2 separate regions of the Homo sapiens genome follow, and region 1 is linked to region 2. The links come from fine-mapping of genetic effects on gene expression. Tissue or cell type: whole blood. Region 2 holds a variant in brackets; the other region holds the start of a gene. All regions are shown on one strand. Distances are from middle to middle.

Region 1 (15,319 bases), 170 kb before region 2:
CAATGAGATACCATCTCATGCCAGTTAGAATGGCGATCATTAAAAAGTCAGGAAACAACAGATACTGGAGAGGGTGTGGAGAAATAGGAATGCTTTTACACAGTTGGTGGGAGTGTAACTTAGTTCAACCATTGTGGAAGACAGTGTGGCTATTCCTCAAGGATCTAGAACTAGAAATACCATTTGGCCCAGCAATCCCATTACTGGTTATATACCCAAAGGATTATAAATCATTCTACCATAAAGACACATGCACACCTGCGTTTATTGCAGGACTGTTCACAATAACAAAGACTTGGAACCAACCCAAATGCCCATCAATTATAGACTGGATAAAGAAAATGTGGCACATATACACCATGGAATACTATGCAGCCATAAAAAAGGATGAGTTCATGTCCTTTGTAGGGACATGGATGAAGCTGGAAACCATCATTCTCAGCAAACTAACACAAGAACAGAAAACAAAACACCACGTGTTCTCACTCATAAGTGGGAGTTGAACAACGAGAACACATGGACACATGGAGGGGAACATCACACACTGGGGCATGTTGGGGGGTGGGGGCGGGGGGAGGGATAGCATTAGGACAAATACATAATATAGGTGATGGGTTGATGGGTGCAGCAAACCACCACAGCACATGTATACCTATGTAACAAACCTGCACGTTCTGCACGTGTACCCCAGAACTTAAAGTATAATAAAAAAAAAAGTAGGTTAAAAAAAAGTATTACAGACACAGTCTGATGCAAATCTTTGACTTGGCTAGCCTCAAGGCTTTTAAAAGTCTAAGATTCCTTATTAAAAAGTTCCAACAAAGCCAATTTTAAGAAGCCTATATGGTCAATAAATATTCTTACTGCACTTTATGCAAATAATCAGACCAGGTACGATAAGACTAAAACTTATTTTGCACACAAATTTGTCCTACTATGATTTGTCTTTGATAAAATGATGGACTAGAGAGAGAAAATTTATGTTCCAAAAGAAAACTATGACATATGCTATTAGATTCCAGCCCTGATCATTGTTTCCGAGTTTTTATTATTTGCCTATAATTTGGGCTGAATCCTGAATTATTTCCTGGCTCCAAGTGTTCCCTAGTTAACCCAGATATAACATATTTTAAAAAACTTGTTTTTTCCTGTCAGGAATGAGATGTATTTTTGAAGGACTACTTAAACTAGCAATTACAATTCGATTATTATGATTATAGAATCTCGGGATTTCTCTTCCTTCTTGTCAAGGTCTTTACCTGATGTTTGTCTCATTAAAAAAAAAAAAAAAGAAATCAGACTGATTACACTCTACTCAAGACTGAAGACATGTACTTTAACCTGTCTCTGTTACCAGTAAACCAAAGCCTTAAATTTCAGAATCCGTCAAGGACCCTGTGTTGTCCCTGGATCAAGCACCCATGGGCTTATGAATGTGTTGACCACTGGCATATGAGAGGTAATTGTCTATTAGGTTATGTGGCTCTTCCTCTTTCTATTTATAACTCCAATGTTTCTGAACACTGAAGTAGTTCATCGAAATTATTTTCCAGGATTAGACAAACCGTACCTGCAAACCAAGGAGATGAATTTTGGCCTATGTTTGGCAGAAGTCTCTTGCAATGGTGGGGAGTAACTCTCATGAACGTATAATTAGAAATCTGTCAACCACTCTAGGTAACTTAGCAAATGAACTAGCTGAAGCCGTAGCTACCAAATAAAGATCTTCAGACTCTTTAGCCAGGATAGTCGTGGATGACGGAATAACTTTAGGCTACATAGTGGTGAAACAGGGAGAAACTCATATGGAAGCTAGCTAACACATCATGTTGTGTTTAGATCCATACATCTTCTGAAGTTGAAACACATGTAAAAAAATAAGACGATATGGGAATTAATTATGGCAAATCTAGGGAAGAGGCTGAAAGAGCTGTAACACAAGCAGGGCTGAGACATGCCCCTTGCTTGCCACATTGTGGGCAAAGAGAAGGAAAGAAGAGCTGTGGCCCTTTGGGGAGCCCAGACCTGGAGCTCCCCGAGCCAGGGCTGTGATTCCCTCTTTAGGGCCCTGTGGTTCCTGGTATCTCCAAGCTTCTGGGTGCCACTGTGTTCCCAGTGTGCCAGCTGTGGAAGCTGCTTGCGGTGCCCGTGGTCCAGCCACAGCCTTGTAGAGAGCTGGTGCCCGTGTTGGCACCTGGAGCCACCTGCCCCACTGCAGCAGCCAGCAAGTCTGACTGCACAGTGGCCAGACCCCATGCTCACTCACACACCCCTTGCCACTCCATGCAGTCTCCCTTGGCAGGCGTGGGATCCAACCTGGTAGCATGAGCTGAGCACAGCCTGCCAGGCTGAGTGGGTGGGGCCCAGCAAAACGCAGGCAAAGGTGCCACCAGCCATAGAGGTTTCTGTCCAGAAAAGTAACACTCCAAAGATCCCGTAACACCGCTACTCTTCCCAGCCTCTGGAAGCTCTCAGTCTACTCTCTATCTTGATGAGTTCAATTGTTTTAATTTTTAGCTCCCACAAATGAGTGAGAACGTGCAAAGTCTGTCTTTCTGTGCCTGGCTCATTGTACTTAACATAATATCCTTTAGTTCCATCCATGTTGTTGCAAATGACAGAATCTTATTCTTTTTCATGGCCGAAGAGTACTCCATTGTGTATATGCACCACATTTTCTTTATCCCTTCATTTGTTGATGCACACTTAGGTTGCTTCCAAATCTTGGCTATTATGAATAATGCTGAAATAAATATGGGAATGCAGATATCTCTTTGATATACTAATTTTCCCTCTCTTGGGTATATACCCAGCAGTGGGATTGCTGGATCATATGATAGTTCTATTTTTAATTTTTTGAGGGACCTCCGTATTGTTCTCCATAGTGAATGTACTAATTTACATTCCCACCAACAGAGTAAGAGTGTTCCCTTTTCCCCACGTTCTTGCAAGCATTTATTGCCTGTCTTTTGCATAAAAGCCATTTTAATGGGGTAAGATGATATCTTATTGTAGTTTTGATTTCAATTTCTCTGATGATCAATGATATTGAGCATCTTTTCATATCCCTATTTGACATTTATATATCTTCTTTTTTGTTTTTGCTCATTTTTTGAGACAGGGTCTCAGTCTGTCACCCAGGCTGGAGTGCAGTGGTATGATCATGGCTTAATGTAGTGTTGACTGCCAGGGTTCAAGCAATCCTCCCACCTCAGCCTCCTGAGTAGCTGGGACCACAGGCATGCATCACCATGCCCAGGTAGTTTTTAAAATTATTTGCTATGTTGTTCAGTTTGGTCTTGAACTCCTGGGCTCAAGTGGTCCACCTGTCTTGGCTCCCCAAAGTGCTGGAATTACAGGTGTGAGCCACTGTGCCTGACCTGTGTGCCTTCTTTTGAGAAATGTCTGTTCAGATCTTTTGCCCATTTAAATAATTGGATTGTTAGTTTTTTTCTTATGAGTTGTTTGAGCTCCTTATATATTCTGGTTATTAATCCCTTGTCAGATATATAGTTTGCAAATATTTTCTTCCATTCTGTGGATTGTCTTTTCACTTTGCCCATTGTTTTCTTTACTATGGAGAAACTTTTGAACTTGATGTGATACCACTTGTTCATTTTTGCTTTGGTTGCCTGAGCTTTTGGAGTATTACTCAAGAAATCTGTGCCCAGACCAATTTCCTGGAGAGTTTCCCTAATGTTTTCTTTCAGCAGTTTCGTGTCTTTGATTTAAGTCTTTAACCCATTTGGATTTGATTTTTGTATATAGTGCAAGAGAGGGTTCTAGTTTAATTATTCTGCCAATGACTTTGGGAGGCCGAGGTGGGCGGATCATGAGGGCAGGAGATTGAGACCATCCTGGCTAACACGGTGAAACTCCGTCTCTACTAAAAATACAAAAAAAAAAAATTTAGCCAGGCATGGTGGCAGGCGCCTGTACTCCCAGCTACTTGGGAGGCTGAGGAGGAGAATGGTGTGAACCCAGGAGGTGGAGCTTGCAGTGAGCCCAGATCACGCCACTGCACTCCAGCCTGAGCAACAGAGCTAGACTCCATCTCAAAAAAAAAAAAAAAAAAAAAAAAATTCTGCCAATGAATATCTAGTTTTCCCAGCACAATTTGTTGAAGAGACTGTCCTCTCCCCCATGTATATTCTTGGCACCTTCATTGAAAATGAGTTAATTGTAAATGTATGGATTTATTTCTGGGTTCTCTATTCTGTTCCATTGGTCTATGTGTCTGTTTTATGCCAGTACCATGCTGTTTTGTTTACAATTGCTCTGTAGTATAATTTAAAGTCAGGTGATGTGATTCTTCCAGTTTTGTTCTTTTTGCTCAGGATGGCTTTCGGTATTCTGGGTCTTTTATGGTTTCATATAAATTTTAGGATTTTTTTTCTATTTCTGTAAAGAGTGTTATTGGTATTTCAATAGGGATTGCATTGAATCTGTAGATTGCTTTGTGAAGTATAGGTATTTTAACAATATTTACTCTTCCAATCAATGAACATGGACAATCTTTCCATTTTTTTTGGTGTCCTCTTTAATTTTTTTGCATCAGTGTTTTATAGTTTTCATTGTAGAGATCTTTCACTTATTCTGTTATGTTTGTTCCCAGATATTTTATTTTATTTGTAGCTATTGTAAATGGGATTACATTCTTGATTTTCTTCTTTAGATTGTTCATTTTTGTCATTTAGAAATGCTACCGACTCTTGTAGTTTGATTTTGTATCCTGTGACTCTGAATTTGTTGATCAGTTCTAATAGTTTTTTGGTGGAGTCCTTAGGTTTTTCCAAATATAAGATCAAATCATCTGCAAACAAGAAAACAGTAATAATTTTACTTCTTTCCAATTTGGATCCCTTTTATTGTTTTTCTCTTGTCTGAATTGCTCTAGCTAGGACTTCCAGTACTGTGTGTTGGAAGTGGACATTCTTGTCTTGTTCCAGATCTTAGAAGAAAGGCTTTCAGCTTTTCCCTGTTCAGGATGATACTGGCTGTGGGTCTGTTGCATATGGTTTTTATTGTGTTGTGGTATGTTCCTTCTATATCTAGTTTTTTTTTGAGGGTTTCTTTTTATCACAGGGATGTTGGATTTTATTAAATGCTTTTCAGCATCAATTGAAATTATCATATGGTTTTTGTCCTTCATTCTGTTGATATGATGTGTCACATTGATTGATTTGCATATGTTGAACCATGTTGGCATCCTCGGGATAAATCCCACTTAGACATGATGAATGGTCTTTTTCATAGGATGAGTTTGGAAATACTACAGCCTTCTCTGTTTTTTGGAATAGTTTAAGTAGGATTGATAGTAATTCTGCCTTCAATGTTTGGTAAAATTAATCAGTGAAGCCAGTGAAGCCATTGGATCCAGGCTTTTCTTTACTAGGAGATGTTTTATTATGGCTTCAATTTCATTTATCCATTTCTTCTAGGTTTGTTGTTTGGTTGTTTTTTTGTTTTCTTTTTTTTGAGATGGAGTCTTGCTCTGTCACCCAGGCTGGAGCGTGGTACAATCTCAGGTCACTGCAACCTCTGCCTCCCAGGTTCAAGTGATTTTCCTGCCTCAGCCTCTGGAGTAGCTGGGAGTACAGGTGCATGACACCATGCCTGGCTAATTTTTGTATTTTTAGTAGAGATGGGGTTTCACCATGTTGGCCAGGCTGGTCTTGAACTCCTGACCTCAGGTGATCACCTTCCTTGGCCTCCCAAAGTGGTGGGATTACAGGCATGAGCCACGGTGCCTGGCCATTTCTTCCAGGTTTTTCAATTTATTGGAATATAGTCAGTCATAATAGTTTCTAATGATTCTTTGAATTTCCGCAGTATCAGTTGTAGTATCTCCTTTTTAATCTCTGGTTTTATGTATTTGAGTCTTCTCTCTTTTTTCTTAGTCTGGTTAAATGTTTGTTGATTTTGTTGGTCTTTTAAAAAATATTAACTTTTCATTTCATTGATATTTTATATTTTTAAATTTCAATTTCATTTATTTCTGCTCTGATCTTTGCTATGTTTCCTTCTACTAATTTTGGTTTTGGTTTGCTCTTGCTTTTCCAATTATTTAAGATGCATTATTAGGTTGTTTATTTGAAGCTTTTCTACTTTTTTTGATGCAGGTGCTTTTTGCTATAAATTTACCTCTTAGTACTGTAGTAGTGTTTTTACTGTATCCCATAGGTTTTTTTTTTTTTTTTTTGAGACGGAGTATCGCTCTGTTTCCCAGGCTGGAGTGCAGTGACGCGATCTCGGCTCACTGCAAGCTCCGCCTCCCGGGTTCACGCCATTCTCCCGCCTCAGCCTCCTGAGTAGCTGGGACCAAAGGCGCCCGCCATCACGCACGGTTAATTTTTGTTTTTTGTATTTTTAGTAGAGACGGGGTTTCACTCTGTTAGCCAGGATGGTCTCGATCTCCTGACCTCGCGATCCGCCCGCCTCAGCCTCCCAAAGTGCTGGGATTACAGGCATGAGCCACTGCGCCCGGCCTGTACCCCATAGGTTTTGGTTTGACTTTAAACTTTTTCTTTTCTCGAAAACTCAGTGTCGTGGTACCGGCTTCTAGTGCTTTGGGCAGTGAGACCCTTTTACTTGATAACAGTGGTAGCTGGGACAACTTGGCAACGTAAATAAATAAACGGCATCTAGATTGGAAAGGAAGAAGTACAGTTATCTTTATGTACAGATGACATGATCTTGCATTTAGAAAATCGTAAGAAATTTACTAAAAAGTATTAGGACTCATGAACAAATTTAAGAATGTAACACTATATAAGATTGATATACAAAAATAACTGTATTTCTTTACCAAGAAATCAAGAATCCAAAAATGGAATTACAAAAATAAATCTTGTTACAATAGAATTAAAGCTGGGGAAGCTTAAACTTGAACACTAAAAACTGCAATACATGGTTAGCGTCGGAGACACCCAGGTATCATCCCTGAGCCTTCTCTCCTTGGCTCTGAGGACTTCACCTTCACGTGGTGAGGAAAGGGGTTGCAGTCTTGGCTTTTACGTTATATTAGGTGGGTTCAGGTTGAGGTATCTGCAATTCAAATGAGTATTACAATCTCTACTTTTATGGATAAGAGACTGAGGCCCACCAAGAGAGGGAATGACAGTCCATATCCTGGAAGGCAAATTGTCAGGCACTGATTTCCGCTATGTAACCCCTGCCAATCATCGTGTATTTAAAGGATCCCCAGATACCATACCAATAGGTGTTCAAGAGAGAGGCCTGTAATCTAGGCGTCTGAGAAAGCAAGGCTAGAGATTCCGATATTGGAGACAACAGGGCTCTGGGAAGATTAAGGTTGAGTTTTCTGGATCTGCAGAATAGAGTCACTGAGGAGCAATTGCAAGATCCGAGGAGATGAAAGAACAAGTCAGGGCATGCTTAGGAAAAGAGAAAACCAGGGATAGGTTTTAGGCAAGAGTCACACTGAGGAAGGGCAGGTTCTTGGCGTCGCTCAGGAAGGAATCCAAAAGCAAGCCTGTGGTGGAAGAAAGCAGCTCTACGGAGGCACTGGCGGTGTTACAGCCCTGCGTCCACTCCTGCAGGGCAGGGAGCCCTCCGTGGGTTGTGCTCCCAGAGTAGCAGCCTGGGGGTGGCTTGCAGTCATTTTTATAATTCACTTTTAATGGCATGCTAATTAAGGGGCGGGTTATTCAGAAATAGCTAGAAATGGGCAGTAACTTCCAGCTGTTTCCATGGCAAGGGGTGGGGACTTCCCGTGCTGCCGTGGCATTGGCAAACTGTCACGGCACTGGTGGAAGCGTCTTCTGGTGATCTGAGGCGTGAGGTGCTTTCGCTGCCTCTCCCAGTCTCCTGCGTGCCTCTTACCTGAAAGCCCTTCACACCCTCATCTGCCCACCTACAAACTTCACTGCCCTTTCACCCCAACCCCGTTTCACACGCACTCCCACATCAACCCTGAGCATTCAAGCTTGCGTTTCCCTGTTAGGAACCTCGGTGGTGGCCGGAGCTCTGAGAAACCCCTAGGCAGAAATCCTTGCCTAGTTTGTGGCAGAAATCAGGGAAGGAAAGGCAAAGTTCAGGTCTTTCTCACAATAAATAAATAAAGATAGCTAGATTTGATTGATTGGTGGATGGATGAAACGTGGGAGTTTATGGGCAAATATTTATCAGACACTGGAAGTGTAAGTTGTCACAAAGATTATGGAGTGCACCTGTCTTATGACCCTGTTATTTTATCCCAGTATATGCACTAGAGCATTTTTTGTAACTGTGTAAATTGAAGGCTTATAAATTAGTTTAGTGAGAGAAAAGATAACGGATTGGAAGAGAATTACCATATTCATTAGTTGTGTTTTTAAAATTTTAAAGTAAAATAGAGACATGATTTTTTTCATGCTTTCGAATGCATTTATAAAAAATAGACTTGAGGGCTGGGCGCAGTGGCTCACGCCTGTAATCCCAGCACTTTGGGAGGCCGAGGAGGGCGGATCACGAGGTCAAGAGTTCGAGACCAGCCTGACCAACATGGTGAAACCCCGTCTCTACTAAAAATACAAAAATTAGGTGAGTGTGGTGGCGCGCACCTGTAATCCCAGCTACTCAGGAGGCTGAGGCAGGAGAATCGCTTGAACCCGGGAAGCGGAGGTTGCAGTGAGCCGAGATCGCACCATTGCTCTCCAGCCTGGGTGACAGAGTGAGACTCCGTCTCAAAAAAAAAAAAAAAAAAAAAGTTACTCATTAATAGCATAGACCAATTGGCCTCTATTGAAATTTCTCCATTATTTTCACAATGTGCCAGGCTGTGAAACCAGGATTTAATAAAGAACCAGAATGCCACATCTGTGTCACCTGGGTAGGGACCAGTCCTGATCCATTAAGTCCGGGTCTCTGGGTAACTGGACTCACTGCTGGGCAAAACAGAATGTCCGGCTTGGGTTCCTAACCGGGGACCGCAGAGCCTCATGGGAAATGTAGTGTCACCTTCCAATGATGTTACCATCAAGGACCTTGGGAACCAGCTTTTCTCTCTGCGCATGCGCCGCCCCGCCCACTCCGCCATTTTCCTCCGGAAGTGCGGCACCCAGAGGCGGTCTTGTAGCTGGGCCAGCCTGGGGCTTGGTTCTATGTCCCTGCGGGTCGGTGCGAGGGCGAAGAGGAACCCGTGGGCCCGGGGGATCCCGGGGGGCCGGACCAGTGTTCCCCAGTTGTGGGAGCAGACGCGTGGGCGCATCGCGGGCGGGCAGGGCCTGAAGTGCAGGTGCAGGCCGCGGACCCTGGCGGGGGCTGGGAGGACAGGCGTGGGGTCCCGGCAGTGAAGCGGGTTCTAGAGGCGCAGGAGCGGGTAGGCGAGGCCGGTGGCCCTGGGCCCGGAGTCTGCAGGCCGCGCTCCTGTCCTGCCGCTGAGGGAGCCGGTTACCAACCCGCATGACGCTCAGTTTGCCCATCTGTCCCAGTGCGAACACACAGTTCTCGGGAGACGTTCCCCATTCCCAGAGGAGTAGTGCGAAACGCGTGCGCCTCGAGTCTTAAACTGGGCGTTTGTATTAGTTGGGTTTCCCGGTGTCTCTTTAGCAAGTGAAGTTTCTGGTTCCCTCCTTCACTGTGTGACCTGCCTAGTCCTCCTGGGTTGCGTTTACAGAAGTTTATACGAGACCTAGTTTCCAGGGAAGAACTCACTGATGCCGCGAGGGAGATGGGGTACTGGATGATGGTCTTCAGCCTTAAGGGTACTTCAGTCTTAACCGTGTGTTATAAGGTTTGAAAGGGAGGGTTCCCTATGAATAAGAAGCGCACTTGAAAGAACAGCCCTCTGGTCTAACCTCCCACTGGTGCTTCAGAGGAGGATAAAAGGTCACAGGTGAAGATCCCAGTTTTCCTCGCTCGGGAAATATTAATTCTACTCCCTAGAATGCACAAGATTTGCAAAGACTAGGTGACAGTGGTAGGTTTGGACGAACTTTCAGAAGGTTGAGGTGAATTCGGCTGAGAAGAACAGGCAAGGACCTAGGAAATATTCCTTATTTGAAGGGGCCTGAAAGTGTGGTCTGGGGTACAGGAGTGACCTGTCATACCTGAGAAGATTAAAATACTCTCCAAACACAGTCCCATTCCTTCAACCTTTCCTCGTTGTTTCCAGCGTTTGAGATATATTAAACCTAGTCCATCACCAAATTTAGCTTTAGCATTAGATTGTGAAGTTCTATCGATTGTATTTGATTTGTAATTTAAGACTTTCTCCCCCTACGTAATTTTGTTAAAAACATATTGAATTCTGTTCACTTAGGTGTAACAGTTAATACTTGCTGTTTAAGGAACTAATTAAACCTTACTGGCTTATAAAAAACAACCACCATTTTATTTGTTTGAAGTTCTGTGGATCTGCATTTTGGTGTGGTGGGTTCAGCTGGGTAGTTGATATATTTATGTTGCCTGGATCACAAAAGAGGCCTTGGTCACATGGTGGGTTGACTGAGCCTGGTTGGTTTAAGATAGTTTCCTTCACAATCTGGCGGTTTGTGGTGACTCTTGGCTAGGCCCTGTGTCTCCACCAGGGTAGCTCCAGACCTCCTCACAATATGACTGTGTCCAAAAAGGCAAGAACCAATGGATATTTGCATCACATTTTCCATTGTCCATTCACTGGACAAGTCAGATGGAAAAGCCCAATTTATTGTCAGAGCATAATATGAGGGCTTGGATACAGGGAAAGGTGTTATTGGGAAACATGAGTAGAATGGTGTACTGCAGGAAATACATATTATGTACATTTAAAAAAAAGTAATTGTAGGCCAAAATTGCTGGGTTGCAAGATGCACTTTCCATGATGTTCAGGTATAGAAAAGCAAGATGTACTGTCATGGGAACACTCATATGAAGTTATTTGTGGAATCCACATATTAATAGGAAAATAGTTAATACAGCCCAGTATATTTCTATAACATTTATTTTAGTGAACTTATAATGTTTCTTTGTATTAAATTATTAGATTGTATCTTTAGGTAATATTGTTGCTAAATTAGTAGGTAATACATATTTTTATTCAAAATAAATTGTGCATCTAATGTCTACCAATTAATGTACTTGTAGATGTATCTTATCTTGAGTCTTTGCTGCCCCTAATGAGGCTTGAAGGACTCTTCTCCCATGGGGAAGTTTTTCTTTTTCAGGAGGGAGGAGGGCTTTTCCAGGTAATGTGTCTAGAGTGTTGGGCAGAAGAATCTGGGACCACACCACACCAGTTCTCTCCTTAATTCACGTCATTTGCCTTCTCTCTCAGCTATGTTTCCAGTGTTCTCTGGCTGTTTCCAAGAGCTACAAGAAAAGAATAAATCTCTGGTGAGTTGTTTATTTGTTCTTCACTTTGTTTTACACTGTATTTTCTGAGTTTATGGGTGTCTGTGAATTAAAAAAGAAAAGTGGAAATAAGTAAAACTCAGGTTGAAGGAAATATACATAAATAAGATAAAGCTGACCTGTAGATATAGACAGGTTGTAAGAGCTTAGAGTTGTCTAAGTTGAGTGCAAATTTTCCTCTGATCTTTCTGATGCAGTGACAAAAAAGTCAGTCATGGTTGTTACGTGATTGGAATGGAACCCGCGAAGAGAGCATGCTGTGTTCTTGTGGGACAGGAAAGCTTGTGTGCACCAAGTCTGAACCACCACCTTCGGTGGTGACATAGGTTATGTGCTGGAACATATTTCACACCAGCCTGGCAGTAAATACTTGTAGTGTTGTGCAGTGGAAACGGTCATCTTCTGCTAAAGCACGGCATGTTGTGCAGTGGAAACGGTCGTCATCCGCTAAAGCACGGCGTGTTGTGCAGTGGAAATGGTCATCTGCCGCTAAAGCACGGTGTGTTGTGCAGTGGAAACGGTCATCGTCCGCTAAAGCACGGCATGTTGTGCAGTGGAAATGGTCATCTGCTGCTAAAGCATAGTGTGTTGTGTAGTGGAAATGGTCATCTGCCGCTAAAGCACAGTGTGTTGTGCAGTGGAAATGGTCATCTGCCGCTAAAGCACAGCTTCCATCATAAGGTATGCTCCTTGCTGTGGTGGAACATATTTCACACCAGCCTGGCAGTAAACACTTGTAGTGTTGTGCAGTGGAAACAGTCATCTTCCACTAAAGCACGGCCTGTTGTGCAGTGGAAATGGGCATCTGCTGCCAAAGCACAGCTTCCATTGTAAGGTATGCTCCTTGCTCAAAGAGTGTGGTCCCAAACAGCTTTTGGGAGGTGCTCCTTGATTCATGGATGAAACCTGGAACATCTTGAGAACTGAGTTAACCACAGGTCCTTAAATAACTCTCCACACCTTTATCTTAGTTTATCTCTACATGCAGGGTGTGCAGCAGCCTGTTCAAAGTTATATTTTCTGGGAAATACTTCCAGTGTTTATTTGCACTTTAGCCCACTCTGTGTAGTCCTAACTTATTTCTTCTAAACTCACCATTAACCTAAATAATAGTCAAATTTAGGGGGACTGTGATTGCCTTACTCGAGTCTTCTACCATAGTTGAAACTGTCGTATCCGAGCGAGTTAGAGAGAAACGCCACACTTTGAGACGAGTTCAGGAGTCCTTTATTAGCCAGCGACTGAGAGATGGCTAACGCACGAAATTCTCTCGGCCCCGGATAAGGGGCTAGCTTTTCTTTTATACTTTGGTTTAGAGAGGGGAGGGGGGATTCTAGCTGCAGCAACCTTACAGAAGAAAAAACAGACAAAAAAGTTAAAACGACAGATGGTTACAGGAAAACAAACTGTTCCAGGTGCAGGGGCTTTAAATTCACCACAAAGTGATAGGTGAGGGGGCTCTGGGCGTTAGCTGCCGGACAAATGTGCGGGCTTTATGATACTATCTCTGAGTAAATTGCTGGGAACTGCAGACATCACTTGCCTCAGCGCTTTATCAGTTAATTGCAGTCTTTGATATGTTGAAAGTCAGCTTGCACAAGTTAAAGTCCTTGAGGAAAGGGAGTGGGTAAGGAGCCCTTGATGTCTTATAAATGAAGGAGCCAAATGGAGTTTGTCCGGTTTTCTCAGCTAAGGGAGAGTCTATTCATATTAAAAACAAGGTTAGGTATCTAAGGACGAGTCTATTCATGTTAACACAACTTTGGGTATTACAAAATGTCTGTTCATGATCTGGAAATTCTTCTGTGTTAGTTCTGTTAAAAGAAAAACTTTAAAGGAGTTTAGTTGAGCAATAAACGATTCATGAATCGGAGAGTCCCCAGAAACACAGCAGATTCACAGAGACTCCAGCACAGTCATTTGGTGGAAGAAGATTTATAGACAAAAGGGAAGTGGCATACCGAAATCAGAAGTGAGGTACAGAAACAACTCAGCATTTGCCTTGTTTGAACACAGTTTGAACACTTGGCAGTGCCTGAGTGGTTGAAGTTTGGCCACTGGGATTGGCCAAGACGCAGCTGTTGTTCCAGGTGCATACTCTCAAGTTAGGTTTTCATTCTTGTCTACCTATTAAGGTAGGTTGCAGTTCATCCACAAGGACTCATATATAGAATTATGGAGTCCTTCTCAGGCCATACTTAGTTCACTTTAACAATTCCTTCCCTTTGGTTATTTTCTCAATTTTGAGAGATTGGCCAAAACTTCAGTCACTGGTGTCACTATTACCATTGCAAATGTACTTACTTGCTTTAGAAACCCACTGGGAAATAGACCAGTGAGTTTTGAAAAGGTGGACCAAGGACTTGAGTAGAAGGTACCTTCTTATGCTGGAACGTCCTGTTTACAGGAGAAAAACAAAACCTGGTTTGTTCTAGGATTTATGTGTTTCCTTAAAGTCTTAGTTTGATTATGTTACATTTAGCATGAGTAACTCCATTTTGGTTTGGTTTGGTCTGTTGGGACCTATTGCATGAGCTTAGTTTAAAACAATGGCCTCGCATAATTTTGCTTAAAAAATTCCTCCTTTTGGCTGGGCGTGGTGGCTCACACCTGTAATCCCAGCACTTTGGGAGGCCGAGGTGGGTGGATCACAAGGTCAGGAGATTGAGACCATCCTGGCTAATACGGTGAAACCCCGTCTCTACTAAAAATACAAAAATTAGCCGAGCGTGGTGGTGGGCACCTGTAGTCCCAGCTACTTGGGAGGCTGAGGCAGAATGGCCTGAACCCGGGAGGCGGAACTTGCAATGAGCCAAGATCTTGCCACTGCACTCCACTCTGGGGGACAGAGCAAGACTCTATCTCAGAAAAAAAATAATTCCTCCTTTTTAGTCAAGTTCTCACTTAGTTGAGAGTGTGACCAAAATGTAGGGCCTTAGCACTACTGTTAGTTACCATTGTTTTAGGTTTCCGGTTTAGCACATCACTCCCATTGTTTTGGGTTCCAGTTTTAGCACGTGACTCCCATTTTTTGGGTTTCTGGGTTTAGCACGTCACTCCCATTGTTTTGGGTTCCGGTTTTAGCACGTCACTCCCATTGTTTTGGGTTCCAGTTTTAGCACGTCAGCTCCATTGTTTTGGGTTCCAGTTTTAGCACGTCACTCCCATTGTTTTGGGTTTCTGGCTTAGCACGTCACTCCCATTGTTTTGGGTTTCTGGCTTAGCACGTCACTCCCATTGCTTTGGGTTCTGGTTTAGCACGTCTCTCCCATTGTTTTGGGTTCTGGTTTTAGCAAGTCACTCCCATTGTTTTGGGTTCCTGTTTAGCACATCTCTCCCATTGTTTTGGGTTCCAGTTTTAGCACATCACTCCCGTTGTTTTGGGTTTCTGGTTTAGCAGGACACTCCCATTGTTTTGGGTTCCGGTTTTAGCACATCACTCCCATTGTTTTGGGTTTCTGGTTTAGCACGACACTCCCATGGTTTTGGGTTCCGGTTTTAGCACATCACTCCCATTGTTTTGGGTTTCTGGTTTAGCACGACACTCCCATGGTTTTGGGTTCCGGTTTTAGCACGTCACTCCCATTGCTTTGGATCCTGGTTTAGCACGACTCTCCCATTGTTTTGGGTTCTGGTTTTAGCACGTCACTCCCATTGTTTTGGGTTCCTGTTTAGCACATCTCTCCCAGTGTTTTGGGTTGCGGTTTTAGCACGTCACTCCCGTTGTTTTGGGTTTCTGGTTTAGCAGGACACTCCCATTGTTTTGGGTTCTGGTTTTTGCACGTCACTCCCATTGTTTTGGGTTTCTAGTTTAGCACATCACTCCCTTTGTTTTGGGTTCCGGTTTTAGCACATCACTCCCATTGTTTTGGGTTCCGGTTTTAGCACATCACTCCCATTGTTTTGGGTTTCTGGTTTAGCACATCACTCCCATTGTTTTGGGTTCCAGTTTTAGCACGTCACTCCCATTGTTTTAGGTTTCTGG
Region 2 (15,319 bases):
CATGTTGTGCCCTGTCTGGTCCTGGCATCCCCTCTGCCCAGCTCCATATCCCATCTCCTCCGGTCAACCCCAGGGGATCCTTGTCTCTTCATAGCAGCACTGTGGGGGTAAAGTCACCCTGCAGGGCCCCAAGACAGGAGTGTTCATGTCCTGAGTGCCTGGTGAAGGTGTTAACAGTGGTCCCTATGATTTGGCAGGTGCCATGCCCACTTTCTCACTTTAGAACTTCAGAAGACAGCACAGAATAGGCATAAGCTCATCTCACCATTGGGAAAAACAGCTCTGGGGAGTTAAGTACCCAAATCACCCACAGAGCCAACATTACAGTCCTGAGAACGAGTGTGCATCTTCTGACTCCCAATCCATTACTCTTGTTGCCCACCCTGGGAGGACTCACTGGAAAGGAAGCCCCACTCTCCATGCTTAGCTTCAGGTTTGGTTTGCAGAGTTGGCAGCTGCAAACAGTTCGATCTCTCTAGTCCCGGCTGAAGAGGAGAAACAGTGCCTGCAAGCTTGGCATTGCACACCTGGGGTTGTGGACAGGATATGACTAAGCACAGAGCTTTCTTCTTTTGAGGCCACGCATGTGGTGCGGAGCGGGACCACCTGCATCCACAAAGCCCGACGCACCTGCTCCTACTTCTGCTTAGCGTGTGAGCAGTGTGGTGACCAGGGTTTCCACCAGGGAGCAGGCCAGGACCAGCTCACAGCACTTTCTAGGTGCTCTCTGGTCCGGGGCTGGGACCCATACAGGGCTTAGTAAAGTTCATAGATGGTAGCTCGGCAGCCCCAGGCCCCAGGTGACACCTCTCCCCTGCCTGCCTTGTACTGCCTGCCTGCAGCACTCCTGGGAATCTTGTATGAAGACAAGGAGAGACAGGACTTCATCTTCACCATCTACCACTGGTGGCAGGCTGTGGCCATCTTCACCGTGTACCTGGGCTCGAGCCTGCACATGAAGGTGAGACTGGGCAGGGTTGGGGGCCCCATGCCCAATGACAGGTACTTCCTTAGCCCCTGCCCTGGCTTCACAGCTTCCTAAACGCCACCCCTTCCCAAGCCAGTCTCTGGGCCAAGCCTCATTCCTGCAGCCCACTGGGTGGCCCTCAACTCAGCAACCCACTTACTGGCCCACCTCCAGCCAGTCTCAGTTTGCCCATCTCTGAGGGGATTTGTGGGTGCATCACAGCCATCCTGTGGGCTGTTTGGTACCCTGTTCTCCAGATGATGGGTCTGTCTCCCTTTATGGCCTGAAGGGGAGCAGGCTCCTCAGGCGCTGCTCCCAAAAGATGGTGGCTCAGTCTAGCAAGTCCCAGTTGCTAAACATTTTTGAAAAATAGAACTAAAGGCCGGGCGCGGTGGCTCCCGCCTGTAATCCCAGCACTTTGGGAGGCCGAGGCGAGTGGATTGTCTGAGGTAGGGAGTTTGAGACCAGCCTGACCTACATGGTGAAACCTCATCTCTACTAAAAATACAAAAATTAGCCGGGCGTGGTGGCAGGCGCCTGTAATCACAGCTACTCGGGAGGCTGAGGCAGGAGAATTGCTTGAACTGGGAGGCGGAGGTTGCAGTTAGCCGAGACGGGGCCTTGGCACTCCATCCAGCCTAAGCAACAAGAGTGAAACTCCGTCTCAAATAAAAATAAAAATAAAAATAAAAATAGAACTAAAAATAGCAGGGAGTGGGCCGGGAACAGTGGCTCATTCCTGTAATCCCAGCATTTTGAGACACTGAGGTGGGGGTATCACCTGAGGTCTGGAGTTCGAGACCAGCCTGGGTAACAGGCTGTGAAACCCTGTCTCTACTAAAAACACAAAAATTAGCTGGGCATGGTGGCGCGTCCCTGTGATCCCAGCTACTCTGGAGGCTGAGGCACGAGAATGGCTTGAACCTGAGAGATGGAGGTTGCAGTGAGCCAAGATCGCGCCACTGCACTTCAGCCTGGAGGACAGAGCGAGACCCTGTCTCCCAAAAAAAAGAAAAAAAGAAAAAAGAAAAGCAGTGAGTGGGCAGGGCATGGTGGCTCATGCCTGTAATCCCAACACTTTGGGAGGCTGACGCAGGAGGATTGCTTGAGGCCAGGAGTTCAAGACCAGCCTGGGCAACATAAGAGACCCTGCCTCTACAAAAAATTTAAAAATTAGCTGGGAGTGGTGGCGCGTGCCTGTAGTTCCAGCTACTTGGGAGACTGAGGTGGGAGGATGGCTTGAGCCTCAAAGATTGAGGCTGAAGTGAGCATGCCACTGCGCTCCAGCAGTGGGTGGGGGGAGGGAGGGAGGGGGAGCGGTGGGGAAACGGAGCGACCGTGTCTCGAAAAAAGAAAATAGCCGGAAGTATGCATACAGATATGTGTGTATGTACTGAGCTATGTTGTAAAATCATTCCTGACTGCGGGTTATAGTCAAAACCCCATGAAAAGCATCACTACAGCCCACGGGTGTGTCAGGGACTCAGTGTTGTGAGCCCTGGGAAGGCAGGGCCTGTGGCCAGCACTTTATCAACACTGGCACATGCACCCTATGAGGCAAAGGGATTTGCATTGTCTCCTTACAGCGTGGGACACTGAGGTCGCCAGGGGCATGGTGACTGTAAGGGACAGTGCTGGATGTGAGCCTCGCCTGCAGGAGGCGGTCCAGGAAGAGTGGGTGGAGGGGCTGGAGAAGTTGAGGGCCGCGTGGCCCGGGAGGCTCCCGGAGGAGGGAAGGGCCTATCTCAGCGAGGGGCATAGGCGGGAAAGGTGTGGGGCGAGGCGGCCGCGGGTCCCTGGCATCCCTCTCCTTACGCCCAGGCTAAGCTGGCGTTGCTGCTGGTGACGCTGGTGGCGGCCACGGTCTCCTACCTGCGGATGGAGCAGAAGCTGCGGCGGGGCGTGGCCCCGCGGCAGCCCCGCATCCCGCGGCCCCAGCACAAGGTGCGCGGTTACCGCTACTTGGAGGAGGACAACTCGGACGAGAGCGACGCGGAGGGCGATCTTGGGGACGGCGAGGAGGCGGAGGCGGAGGCTCCGCCCGCAGGGCCCAGGCCTGGCCCCGAGCCCGCTGGACTCGGCCGCCGGCCCTGCCCGTACGAACAGGCGCAGGGGGCGATGGGCCGGAGGAGCAGTGAGGGGCCGCCTGGTCCCCGGACTCAGCCTCCCTCCTCGCCGGCCTCAGTTTACCACGTCTTAGGTCGGGGGGACCCCCTCCGAGTCCCGCGCTGTCTTCAAAGGCCCCTGTCTCCCCTCCCCCACGTTGGGGACGCCCCTCCCAGAGCCTGGGTCACCTCTGGGCTTCCGCAGCCCCCTCCAAGGCGGAGTGGAGCCTTGGGAACCCCTCGGCCAAGCACAGGGGTTCGAAAATACAGCTGAAACCCCGCGGGCCCCTAGCACGCGCCCCAGCCCCAGAGCAGGGTCAGGGTCTTCTTGCTACCTGGCCCCGCTCCAGATCCCCCCAGCTCTCGGCCGCGGACCTGGGCTGCGTGTGAGCGCGCTTTGCACCTCCTATTCCCAGGGTCCGCCGAGAGCCACGATTTTTTACAGAAAATGAGCAATAAAGAGATTTTGTACTGTCCTGACTGGGGAGTCCCAGGCCGCGGGGGACGGAGCGCCCCTGGGGTGCACGCCTGGCTGGCCCGGCCTCTGGGCGCGGTGGTGGGAGGCCCTGACCTAGGGGGGCCGCGGGGTGTGGGGAGTGCGGAGCACCACTGGGGGCGGGGCGAGGTGTCCGTAGGCCCCGTCCACCAGCCTGTCCTCCCTCCTGAGGCCCCGCCCCCCATAGCTGCCTGCCTTTGCCAATCCCAGCCAGGAGAAGGAAGCGACGGAGCGGCTGGCAGAGACAGAGGAGGGTGTGACCGCGTTGCTGGTCCCCCATGGGTCCTGAGGGCGCGACAGACTCCGGAGGCACACCCTCCAGGGGCCTGTGTAGGCATCCTCGGCCCTCCAGCGACCACCCCCGCGTCGGACAGGGTCCACTTCCGAGCCACGGTGGGGTCACCCTGTGCCCAGTAGGGGCCTTGGAAGTGGTGGCTGGAGGCCAGTTATGCTCGGTTACTACCCTTTCCCGGCTACAGCCTCAGCTGCGATGCCCACGAGAAACAGGCTGGTGGAGGGGCAGACCCCCTACAAGGCCTGAAGGTGCCGTTCCTCCACCCGCTCCTCTTGTGGCCAGAGGAGAGGGACACCCCCGCCATGAAGAGCTCTGAACGATTGGGTGAGGACAAGTGGGGGCCGTGGGAGGGCCATGGAGCCCCCAGCTGCACCCCAGCACGCCCGGGGCTGGCCCACACCATTCCTCACTCCCCACAGCCTCTCTACCCCTGACTTTGGAGAGGCCCTCGTCTGTACCTCCAGGCTCCATGCCTGCCTCAGCATCGCTCTATGGATTCTCCCAGCCCTAAACTGACCCCATCTCTCCTCTCTGCCCTCATGTGAGTTTGGTTCTTGAAGCCTCTAGTGGGCCCTGGGGCCAGACTCTGTGGCCTTGGACAGGGAGTCTCCCATCTGAGCCACAGGTTCCTTCTCTGTTGAGTGTGTGAGGTAACATGTTGGAGCCCTTAGTGTGGCGGCTGCAAGCTCCCCAGGGCCTGTAAGAAACACAAAAGGGTGCGGCGGGAGACTTGACATTTTCTAAATCTGGGAGGGAACGCTGCCTGCCTCACGCTGACCTTCAATGACAAGCAGACTCAGAAGCGGTCCCGAGGTGCCACCATAAGCTGGGTGAAGGCCAGCGCTGTGTGCTTCCAGTTCCCCTTCCGCATCTGTAGACTGAGTGTTCTCTGGAGGTGGCTGGCGACATCCTCCAGGCAGGCTCCAGCAAAACCAGTCGGAGCTGGGCAACCTGACGCTCGGATGATTCACCTCTGAATGGAGGGCAAGGTGATATTTGGAAGGGTGTGGGCCCCTGGGATGCTGGGCGAACGGGGAGCGGGTGCCTGGATTGTGGGCCTACAGCTCTTCCCAGTTCCGAGTCAATTCTAATGTCCATGGTGCCAAGGAACAGAGGCTCTGGTGTTGAGCAGACTTGAAGGTGATCCAGGCACAGGGAGTGGCCACTCAGGGGCTTGGCTCCTGGCTGTGCTCTTCCTATCTGGGCATTTCCCATGAGAAGGCCTCACAGGCCACCTGGCTGCTCCTGGCACACGGAGGATGCCCAGATGCTGACACGTGCCAGACAACACATATGTACACCTGATAGGCCACACACATGTAACATGCAAACACACGTGATGGGTAACACCTGTGACAGACACTACATGACAACACTCGTGCACACATGATGGGAAACACATATCACAGGCTGTGCGACGGGAAACACACATCACAGGCTGTGCAACGGGAAACACAGAGCAGGCAGTGCGACGGGAAACAGCGCAGGCAGTGCGACGGGCCCTGGCAGCAAGCTCAGCAGGCTGGCTCTTTTCGAGCAGGAGAAGAGCTCATTGTAAGGGATGACAGTGGCGTATGTGGCACCTCCCCTGTCCCCATCACCCCCGGATAAGGTGACTGGGTGGAGGTTCTGGACCCCTGAGTGGACGAACAGGTTGTGTCATGGCCTCCGTGTCTGATTGCCACCCTCGCTCCCAAAGCAACTCTGTGATTTTGTCGATCCGCACTGTGGGGATTTTTCTTTTTCTTTTCTTTTTTCTTTTTTTTTGCAACGGAGTTTCACTCTTGTTGCCCAAGCTGGAGTGCAATGGCGTGATCTCAGCTCACTGCAACCTCCATCTCCTGGGTTCAAGTGATTCTCCTACCTCAGCCTCCCGAGTAGCGGGGAATACAGGCGCCCACCACCATGCCAGGCTAATTTTTTTGTATTTTTATTAGAGACAAAGTTTCACCATATTGGCCAAGCTGGTCTCAAACTCCTGACCTCAGGTGATCCCCCTGCCTTGGCCTCCCAAAGTGCTGGGATTACAGACGTGAGCCATCATGCCCAGCTGGGATTTTTCAATTATGTGATTACAAGAATCTCCAGTCCAAGATTTTCCCTATCTTTAAGTTCTCAGTAGCAGGTTAGATAACCTGAGAAATCTCCCTCTTCAAAACACCTAGAAATGCTGGGTAAGAAACAAATGTCATTTTAACTATAGAGCTGAGGCCGGGCAAGGTGGCTCACACCTATAATTCCAGCACTTTGGGAGGCTGAGGCGGGTGGATCACCTGAGGCCAGGAGTTTGAGACCAGCCTGGCCAATGGTGAAACCCCATCTCTACGAAAAATACAAAAATCAGCCAGGAGTGGTGGCAGGCGCTTGTAATCTCAGCTGCTTAGGAGGCTGAAGCAGGAGAATCGCTTGAACCCAGAAGGCAGAAGTTGCAGTGAGCCAAGATCACGCCATTGCACTCCAGCCTGGGCAAAAGAGTGAAACTCCATCTCAAAAAATATATAAATAAAATAAAATAAAATAAAATAAAATAAAATAAATATATAGCTGAGTTCTTCAGAAAATAAGTTAAGTCCCCTAAAGCCAGAAGTGAAGAGGGAAGTGAGAACCAAGGTGGGGACAGAGGAGCTGGTGCTGCAACTGCCTGAGGGCAGGGCTGGGTTGAGCCTTGGAAGCCCTTAGAAGGCAGGGGGTCAGGGTTACAGTCAAGCATGATGAAGTTGGGGCCACAGAAATGCAACACCTTTAGAGAAAGGGACAGAAAAATTTCCACCCAGGGGAACAGAGAAAGGTGAGAAAATTTGAGCTTTAGGTGTTGAACAAGTTTCCCATGAGATCGTTGCGTTTTCAGGCCTCTCTTATATAAATGTGGAACTCCTACAATGAAGTCATGCTACCTGTGTGGTCTAGGAATGCCAGAGTTGAGATATTAGCACTAAAAAGTTGCTTTGGGCCAGGGGTGGTGGCTCACGCCTGTAATCCCGGCACTTC[G/A]GGAGGCTGAGGCAGGTGAATCACCTGAGGTCAGGAGTTCGAGACCAGCCTGGCCAACATGGTGAAACCCCCCTCTCTACTAAAAATACAAAAAATTAGCCATACCTTGTGTGCCTGTAATCCCAGGTACTCAGGAGGCTGAGGCAGGAGAATAGCTTGAACCTGGGAGGCAGAGGTTGCAGTGAGCTGAGATTGTGCCACTGCACTCCAGCCTGGGCAACAAGAGTGAAACTCCGTCTCAAACAAAAAGTTGCCTTGGCTTAGTGGTACCCTGGGGCCCCTGGAAAAGCCAAAGAGAAAACCTCTCTAGGTGGCTCCCTCAAACCTGGCCACCCAGGATTCCCCACATAAAGCCCCTCTGAAGCTCAGCTCACGATCCAAAATTACAGAACACACAGGAAACACATCACCGCGAGAAAAGGCAACAGACATAAAAAAGAGCAGGATTCGACACCCGCTTCAAATACCCGCAGCTAGGAGAGAGAAGCTGTCCAACAGGTATGTGAGATAGGCAGCTTCTATAAGGGGCTGCCAGCGATCTCCCACCCTTGACTCTTCACAATTTTGTGTAATTTCCATACCTTGATTGTGGGCTGGACCTAGTGAGTTTCTTTTAACCAACTGAATTCTTATTTTACTTATTTTATTTTATTTTATTTTATTTTATTTTATTTTATTTTATTTTATTTTATTTTATTTTATTTTATTTTATTTTACTTAGAGATAGAGTTGCACTGTGTTGTCCATGCTAGGCTGAAACTCCTGGCCTTAAGCAGTCTTCCTGCCTCGGCCTCCTAAAATGACAGGATTATAAGCATGAGTCACTGCGCTCAGCAGCCTTTGCATTTATTTATTTTTGAGACTTGCTGTATGGCCCAGGCTGGAGTGCAATGGCACGATCTCGGTTCACTGCAACCTCCACCTCCCAGGTTCAAGCGATTCTCCTGCCTCAGGCTTCCAAGTAGCTGAGATTACAGGCACCTACCATCACGCCTGGCTAATTTTTGTATTTTTAGTAGAGACGGTTTCACCATGTTGGCCAGGCTGGTCTCGAACTCCTGGCCTCAGGTGATCTGCCCACCTTGGACTCCCAAAGTGCTGGGATTACAGGCGTGAGCCACCGATCCTGGCTGACCAACTTAATACTAAACTGGCCTGAGAGATTCTCACTGCCTGGTGTCCACACTCCGCTAATGCCCTCCTGTGAGTGAATGTGATGGGCTACAGTACTTTTGAGCTAATAACATGGGATGCTACCTAAGTGGACCTGAACCAGTCAGGCAAGTCTTTTAAAAGAAAGGGACATGGCAGAGAGGTGCTCTTCTGCAGGCTTGGAGTAGGGCAAGTGGACATGGGGCCACATACAAGGGGGCCTGTGGATGCCGAGAGTGGTCCCCGATGGCAGCTTAAAAGAAAACAGGGACCTCAGTGCCCCAACGTAGGGAACAGCCCCTCTCCCCCACTGGCTCTAAGGACCCCCATCACAGGGGCATGAGGCACCCCCCTCAATGAGGGGAGTAAGAGCCAGCCCCTCTCCCCCGCTGGTTTTTAGGATCCGAGGTGGACTCACAGCCTGTTTACCATATTGTGAGTAATATCATCTCCCCTCTGGAAATTATGAACTATTTCACAGATGGGTGTACACCCGTCTGTATTGGGAGTAATATCATCCTCTTCCTCCCTGAATATTAAGAACAGTACCACACGGGTGTTTCTACTCCCTGCGATATTGGGTGTCATATCCTCCTCTCCCACGTGGCAATTAGAGACAGTATCAGTGGGGGCGTGTCCACCTTCTGTGATATTTAAAGTAATATCATCCTCTTCCCTCCAGGATCATGGGAACAATATGCCTGGGGGGTGTACACTTTCTGCGATATATGTAGTCATATCACCCCCTCCGCCTTGGAATATTATGAAGGACCATCTCACAAGGGGGTGTACACTGCCTGCGATATTGGGAGTAATATCAACCTCTCGGCCTCTGAATATTAGGAAGAATATCACAGGGTGGGTGTACAACTCCTGCTCTATTATGGGGAGTAATATCATCCCCTCCCTTTCAGGATATTAATAACAATATCACAGGGTGGGTGAACACAGCCTGTGATGCTGGAATTATTATCATCCTCTCCCCGTAGGGTTATTAGGAACAATATCACAGAAGAGGTGTGCACTCCCTCCGATATTGGGAGTAATATCATATGCTTCTTCCGTGAATATTAGGAGCAATATCACCGAGTGGCTGTACATTCATTGCTATGTTGGCAGTCATGTCATACTCCACCCGCTGGATATTAGGATCAGTGTCACAGGGTGAGTGTGCACCTGCTGAGATATTAAAACTAATATCATGCTCTCCATCCCTGGATATTAGGAACAATATCACAGGTAGGTGTACACCCCCTGCGGTATTAGGAGTAATAACATTATGAATTATTAAACATCAGTCTCATTAATGATTATCAATGGTAATATTAATTAATAGTATAACGTTATTAGTCATTAATGATTATTTTAAATATATGGTTACGCATGATTAAAATTAATTCTTACTATTCATGTCATTTTTAATAATATTTGTTATTAATATTAATGTTAATCATTGTCTTATTACCAACATCACTTACAATGGATTAAATAACACTAATTACTGATATCGTTATTTTATTATTAATAGTGATATTGCTATTAATTATTAATTGTAATCATTAATATTTTTAATCCGCATTAAGTTTTACTGTCTCCACTGTAGTTATTAATATCGATGATTACTATTAATTGTTATTCTATTTATTAATATTAATAATTAATAAAACTGTTCCCGATATCCGTAGGGGAGAGGATATGACTCCCAATATCGCAGAAAATGTACACCCCTCTATGATGTTACTCCTAATAGCCAGGGGGTAGAGGATGACATTATGGAAAATATCGCAGTGGGTGTACATCCCTTCGGTCATCTTGTTCCTAATATCCTGGGTGGGAGCGGATGTTACGACTCCCAAAATCGCAGTGGGCGGAGACCTCCCCCGTGATACTGTCCCTAAAATCCAAAGGTGGAGAGGATGATATTTCTTCCAGTTTCGCCGGGGGTGCACAACACCCCTGTGATATTGATCCTCAAATCCAGGGGGTGTGAGGATGATGTTAGTCTGAATATTGAAGGAGATGTACACTCCCTAGGGATATAGTTCCTAATATCCAGGGACGGAGAGGATGATGTCACTCCCAATATAGCAGGGGGTGTACACCCTTCTGTGACATTGTTCTTAATAGGCAGCGGGGGAGAGGAAGATATCACCCCCAATATCGCAGGGGGTGTACACCCTCTTGTGACATTGTTCCTTCTATCCTGGGAGGGAGAGGAAGATACTAGCGGCAATGTCTCAGGGGCTGTACACACCCACTGTGATATTGTTCCGAAAATCCGGAGGGGGAGAAAATGATGTTACTTCCAACATCGCAGGGGGTGTACAAGCTCCTGTGATATTGTTTCTTATGTTCAGGGAGAGAGGATGATATTACTCCCAATATCGCAGGGGTTGTACACACCCCCCGCGATGCGGGGAGTGAGAGCCAGCCCCTCTACCCCCCACCCCGGCTCTTAGGACCCCCATCGCAGGGGGGTGAGGCACCCCCCGCGATGCAGGGAGTGAAAGCCAGCCCCCCTCCCCCCCCGTCTCTCATGATCCCCATCGCAGGGGGGTGAGGCTCACCCCGCTATGCGGGGAGTAAGAGCCAGCCCCTCTTCCCCCCCTGGTTTTTAGGATCCGCGGTGGACTCACAGCCTGTTTACCATATTGTGAGTAATATCATCTTCCCTCTGGAAATTATGAACTACTTCACAGACGGGTGTACACCCATCTGTATTGGGAGTAATATCATCCTCTTCCTCCCTGAATATTAAGAACAGTATCACACGGGTGTGTCTACTCCCTGCGATATTGCGTGTCATATCCTCCTCTACCATGTTGCAATTAGAGACAATATCAGTGGGGGCGTGTCCACCTTCTGTGATATTTAAAGTAATATCATCCTCTTCCCTCCAGGATCATGGGAACAATATCCCTGGGGGGTGTACACTTTCTGCGATACAAGTAGTCACATCACCACCTCCGCCTTGGAATATTATGAAGGGACCATCTCACAAGGGGGTGTACAATGCCTGCGATATTGGGAGTAATATCAACCTCTCAGCCTCTGAATATTAGGAAGAATATCACAGGGTGGGTGTACAACTCCTGCTCTATTATGAGGAGTAATATCTATCTATTATTGGGAGTAATATCCCCTCCCTTTCAGGGTATTAATAACAATATCACAGGGTGGGTAAACACAGCCTGCCATGCTGGAATTATTATCATCCTCTCCCCGTCGGGTTATTAGGAACAATATCACAGAAGAGGTGTACACTCCCTGCGATATTGGGAGTAATATCATACGCTTCTTCCGTGAATATTAGGAGCAATATCACCGGGTGGCTGTACATTCATTGCTGTGTTGGCAGTCATGTCATACTCCACCCGCTGGATATTGGGATCAGTGTCACAGGGTGAGTGTACACCTACTGTGATATTAAAACTAATATCATGCTCTCCATCCCTGGATATTAGGAACAATATCACAGGTAGGTGTACAACCCCTGCGGTATTAGGAGTAAGAACATTCTGAATTATTAAACATCAGTCTCATTAATGATTATCAATGGTAATATTAATTAATAGTGTAACGTTATTAGTCATTAATCATTATTTTAAAAACATGGTTATGCATGATTAAAATTAATTCTTACTATTAATGTCATTTCAAATAATATTAGTTATTAGTATTAATATTAATCATTGTTTTATTACCAACATCACTTATGATGGATTTAAGTAAGACTAATTACTGATATCATTATTTTGTTATTAATAGTGATATGGTTATTAATTATTAATCATAATCATTAATATTTTTAATCAGCATTAAATTTTACTGTCTCCACTGTAGTTATTAATATCGATGATTACTATTAATTATTATATTTATTAATATTAATAATTAATAAAACTGTTCCCGATATCCGTAGGTGAGAGGATATGACTCCCAATACCACAGAAAGTGTACACCCCTCTATGATGTTACTCCTAATAGCCAGGGGGTAGAGGATGACATTATGGAAGATATCGCAGTGGGTGTACATCCCTTCGGTCATCTTGTTCCTAATATCCTGGGTGGGAGCGGATGATATGACTCCCAATATCGCAGGGGGCGGAGACCTCCCCCGTGATACTGTCCCTAAAATCCAAAGGTGAAGAGGATGATATTTCTTCCAATTTCGGCGGGGGTGCAAACCACCCCTGTGATATTGATCCTAACATCCAGGCGGCAAGAGGATGATATTAGTCTGAATATTGCAGGAGGTGTCCACTCCCTAGGGATATTTTTCCTAATATCCAGGGACGGAGAGGATGATATCACTCCCAATATAGCAGGGGATGTACACCCCTTGTGTGACATTGCTCCTAAAGGGCAGCGGGGGAGAGGAAGATATTACAGCCAATATCGCACGGGGTATACAACCCCTTGTGACAGTCTTCCTTCTATCCTGGGAGGGAGAGGGAGATACTAGCGGCAATGTCGCAGGGGCTGTACACACCCACTGTGATATTGTTCCGAATATCCCTAGGGGGAGAAAATGATGTTACTTCCAATATCGCAGGGGGTGTACATGCTCCTGTGATATTGTTTCTTATATTCAGGGGGAGAGGATGATATTACTCCCAATATCGCAGGGGTTGTACACACCTCCTGCGATACCGGGAGTAAGAGCCAGCCCCTCCCCCTCCCTGGCTCTAAGGAGCCCCGTCGCAGGGCGGTGAGGCCCCCCCCCCCGGCGGTACGGGGAGTAAGAGCCAGCCCCTATCTCCCCCTGGCTCTTAGGACCCCCATCGCAATGGGGTGAGGCCCCCGCGATGCGGGGAGTCATATCACCCCCCTCTGGATATGACGATTCACGTCGCAGGGGGGCGGGCGCCCACCGCGATGAGGGGAGTCATATCACCCCCCTCTCCCCCCCTGGATATGATGATCCACATCGCAGGGGGGCGGGCGCCCCCCGCGATGCGGGGAGTCATATCACCCCCATCTCCCCCCCTGGATATGACGATCCACGGTGGTCACACAGCGTGTTCACCTTATTGTCAATAATATCTTCTCCGCCTCTGGAAATTACCAACTATGTCACAGACGGGTGCACATTCTCTGCATTCTTTGGAGTAATAGCATCGTCTTTCCCCTTGATATTAAGAACAATATCACAGGAGTGTTTTTACCCCCAGGGGCATTCCGTGTAGTATCATCCCTCCCACGTTGAAATTAGGAACAATATCACTGGGGGTGTGTCCACCTCGTGCGATATTGAAAGTAACATCATCCTCTTCTCTCTTGGATCATGGGAACCATATCACTGGGGTTGTGTACACTTTCTGCGGTATTGGGAGTAAGATCATCCTCTCCGCCTTGGAATATTAAGGACCATATCACAGTGGGGCTGTACACACCCTGTGCTATTAAGAAGAATATTATCCTCCCCTGCCCTGCACATTGGAAAAAATATCACAGAGTGAGTGTACACCTCCTGCGATGGGCGGGTGATATCATCTTCTCTTCTTCTGGATAATAGCAACAATAGTACACGGGTTTGTACACTTTCTGTGATATTGGGAGTAATAGCAACCTCTCCACCTTTGAATATTAAGAACAATATCACAGACTGGATGTACGACCCCTGCGATTTTGGGAGTCATATCAGCTTCTTCTCTCCATGGATATTAGGAATAATATCCCAGGATGGGTGTACACCTCCTGCTGTATGGGGAGTCATATCGTCCTCTCCCTTCCTGGCTGCTAGGAACAATATCAGAGGATGGGTGTACACAGCCTGCGATATTGCGAGTAATATCACCCTCTCCCCCTCCGGATATTAGGAACAATGTCACAGAAGGGGTGTATACTTCCTGAGATATTGGGAGTAATAGCATTCTCTTCTTCCGGGAATATTAGGAGGAATATCACCGGGTGGATGCACACCCACTGCTATCTTGGGAGTAACGTCATATGCCATCCCCTGGAGATGATATTCGGATCAATATCACCGGGTGGGTGTACACCTACTGCGATATTCAATGTCATATCATGCTCTCTCCCTCCCTGGACATTAGGAACAATATCACAGGTGGGGGTACACCCACTGAGGTATTAGAGATAATATTCATATTAATTCTTCCTCATTTATTATTTACATGAATATGTATTACCAATATAAATATTAATATAATAAATCATTGCTAATAGTGTTCTGATTATTAATATTAATATTAATTATTAGGAGCTAATATGACAGTTTTCTAATGAATAAGATCAATATCACTCTTTAATACCAGGCGTCATTAATCATTAATATTAATCATTTATTGTTATTGTGAGTATAACACTGTAATAGGAATTTTCATTATTATCGGTATTGATTTTAAGAATTATATGATCAGTTATTAATATTGATAATTATTAGTATCAATTAATAATTGAGATTATTAATTGCGGTAAGTCACATTGCGCCATTCCACCCCTCCCTCGGCAGCTCGTTTATGACCCAAAACGGGGATCCAAATGCCCCTGAGAGAGCAGCGGTATACTGTGATAGAGGAGGATGGTCACGTGGTGGAGAAGCATGTTTTTATGTACCAGCCCTTCACCTCGGCCGACCTTCTCAACTGGGAAAACAATACCCAGTCCTAGAGAGAAAAGCCGCAAGCCCTAATTGATTTGCTCCAAACTGTTTTCCAGACCCACAACCCCACCTGGGCTGATCGCCACCGGTTGCTCATATTCCTCTTTAAGAGAGATGAAAGGTGAAAGGCGGAGAGGGCTCCACGTAGCAACTAAGTGGTTAGAGGAACATGCACCAGCTGATTATCAAAACCCCCAAGAGTGTGGAAGGACCCAGTCACCAGGAACCCACTTCCAGTTGGACCCACATGAAAGAGAGGATATGCAAAGGCTAAACCGAGACAGGGAAGCTCTCTTGGAAGGATTCAAGAGGGGAGCTCGGAAGGCCACAAACGTTAACAAGGTCTCTGAGGTCATTCAGGGAAAAGAAGAAAGTCCAGCACAATTCTACCAGAGACTGTGTGAGGCTTATGGTATGTATACTCCCCATTGATCCCGATAACCCTGAAAATCAGCGCATGATTCACATGGCTTTAGTCCGTCAAAGCGCGGAAGAGGTTAGAAGAAAACTGCAGAAGCAGGCTGGACTTGCAGGGATGAATACATCACATTGATGAGAAATAGCTAAGCAGGTGTTTGTAAACAGGGATGCAGTAAGCCCTAAGGAAAATGGCAAAGAGAATGGAGGTCAGGCCCAGCGAAACACCGACCTGTTTGTTAGCTGCAGCAATCAGAGGGGCCCCCCCAAAGAG

Evidence for each region.
Region 1: ZNF717 starts here. The variant in region 2 is fine-mapped to the expression of ZNF717 in whole blood (TOPMed, PIP 0.98).

Annotation. Positions count from the first base shown.
Region 1 is chr3:75,779,303-75,794,621 of GRCh38, reverse strand. ZNF717 (zinc finger protein 717) reads left to right here and starts at 9,073. Exons shown (of 5, transcript NM_001290208.3): 1 at 9,073-9,238; 2 at 11,258-11,316. The coding sequence starts at 11,260. RefSeq lists a silencer at 1,453-1,653 and an enhancer at 8,811-8,960.
Region 2 is chr3:75,607,269-75,622,587 of GRCh38, reverse strand. It overlaps the pseudogene UNC93B3. Among named protein-coding and RNA genes, the nearest start is that of MIR1324, 16 kb to the left of the region's middle. RefSeq lists an enhancer at 2,204-2,811. The variant G/A (reference allele first, on the strand shown) is at 6,852.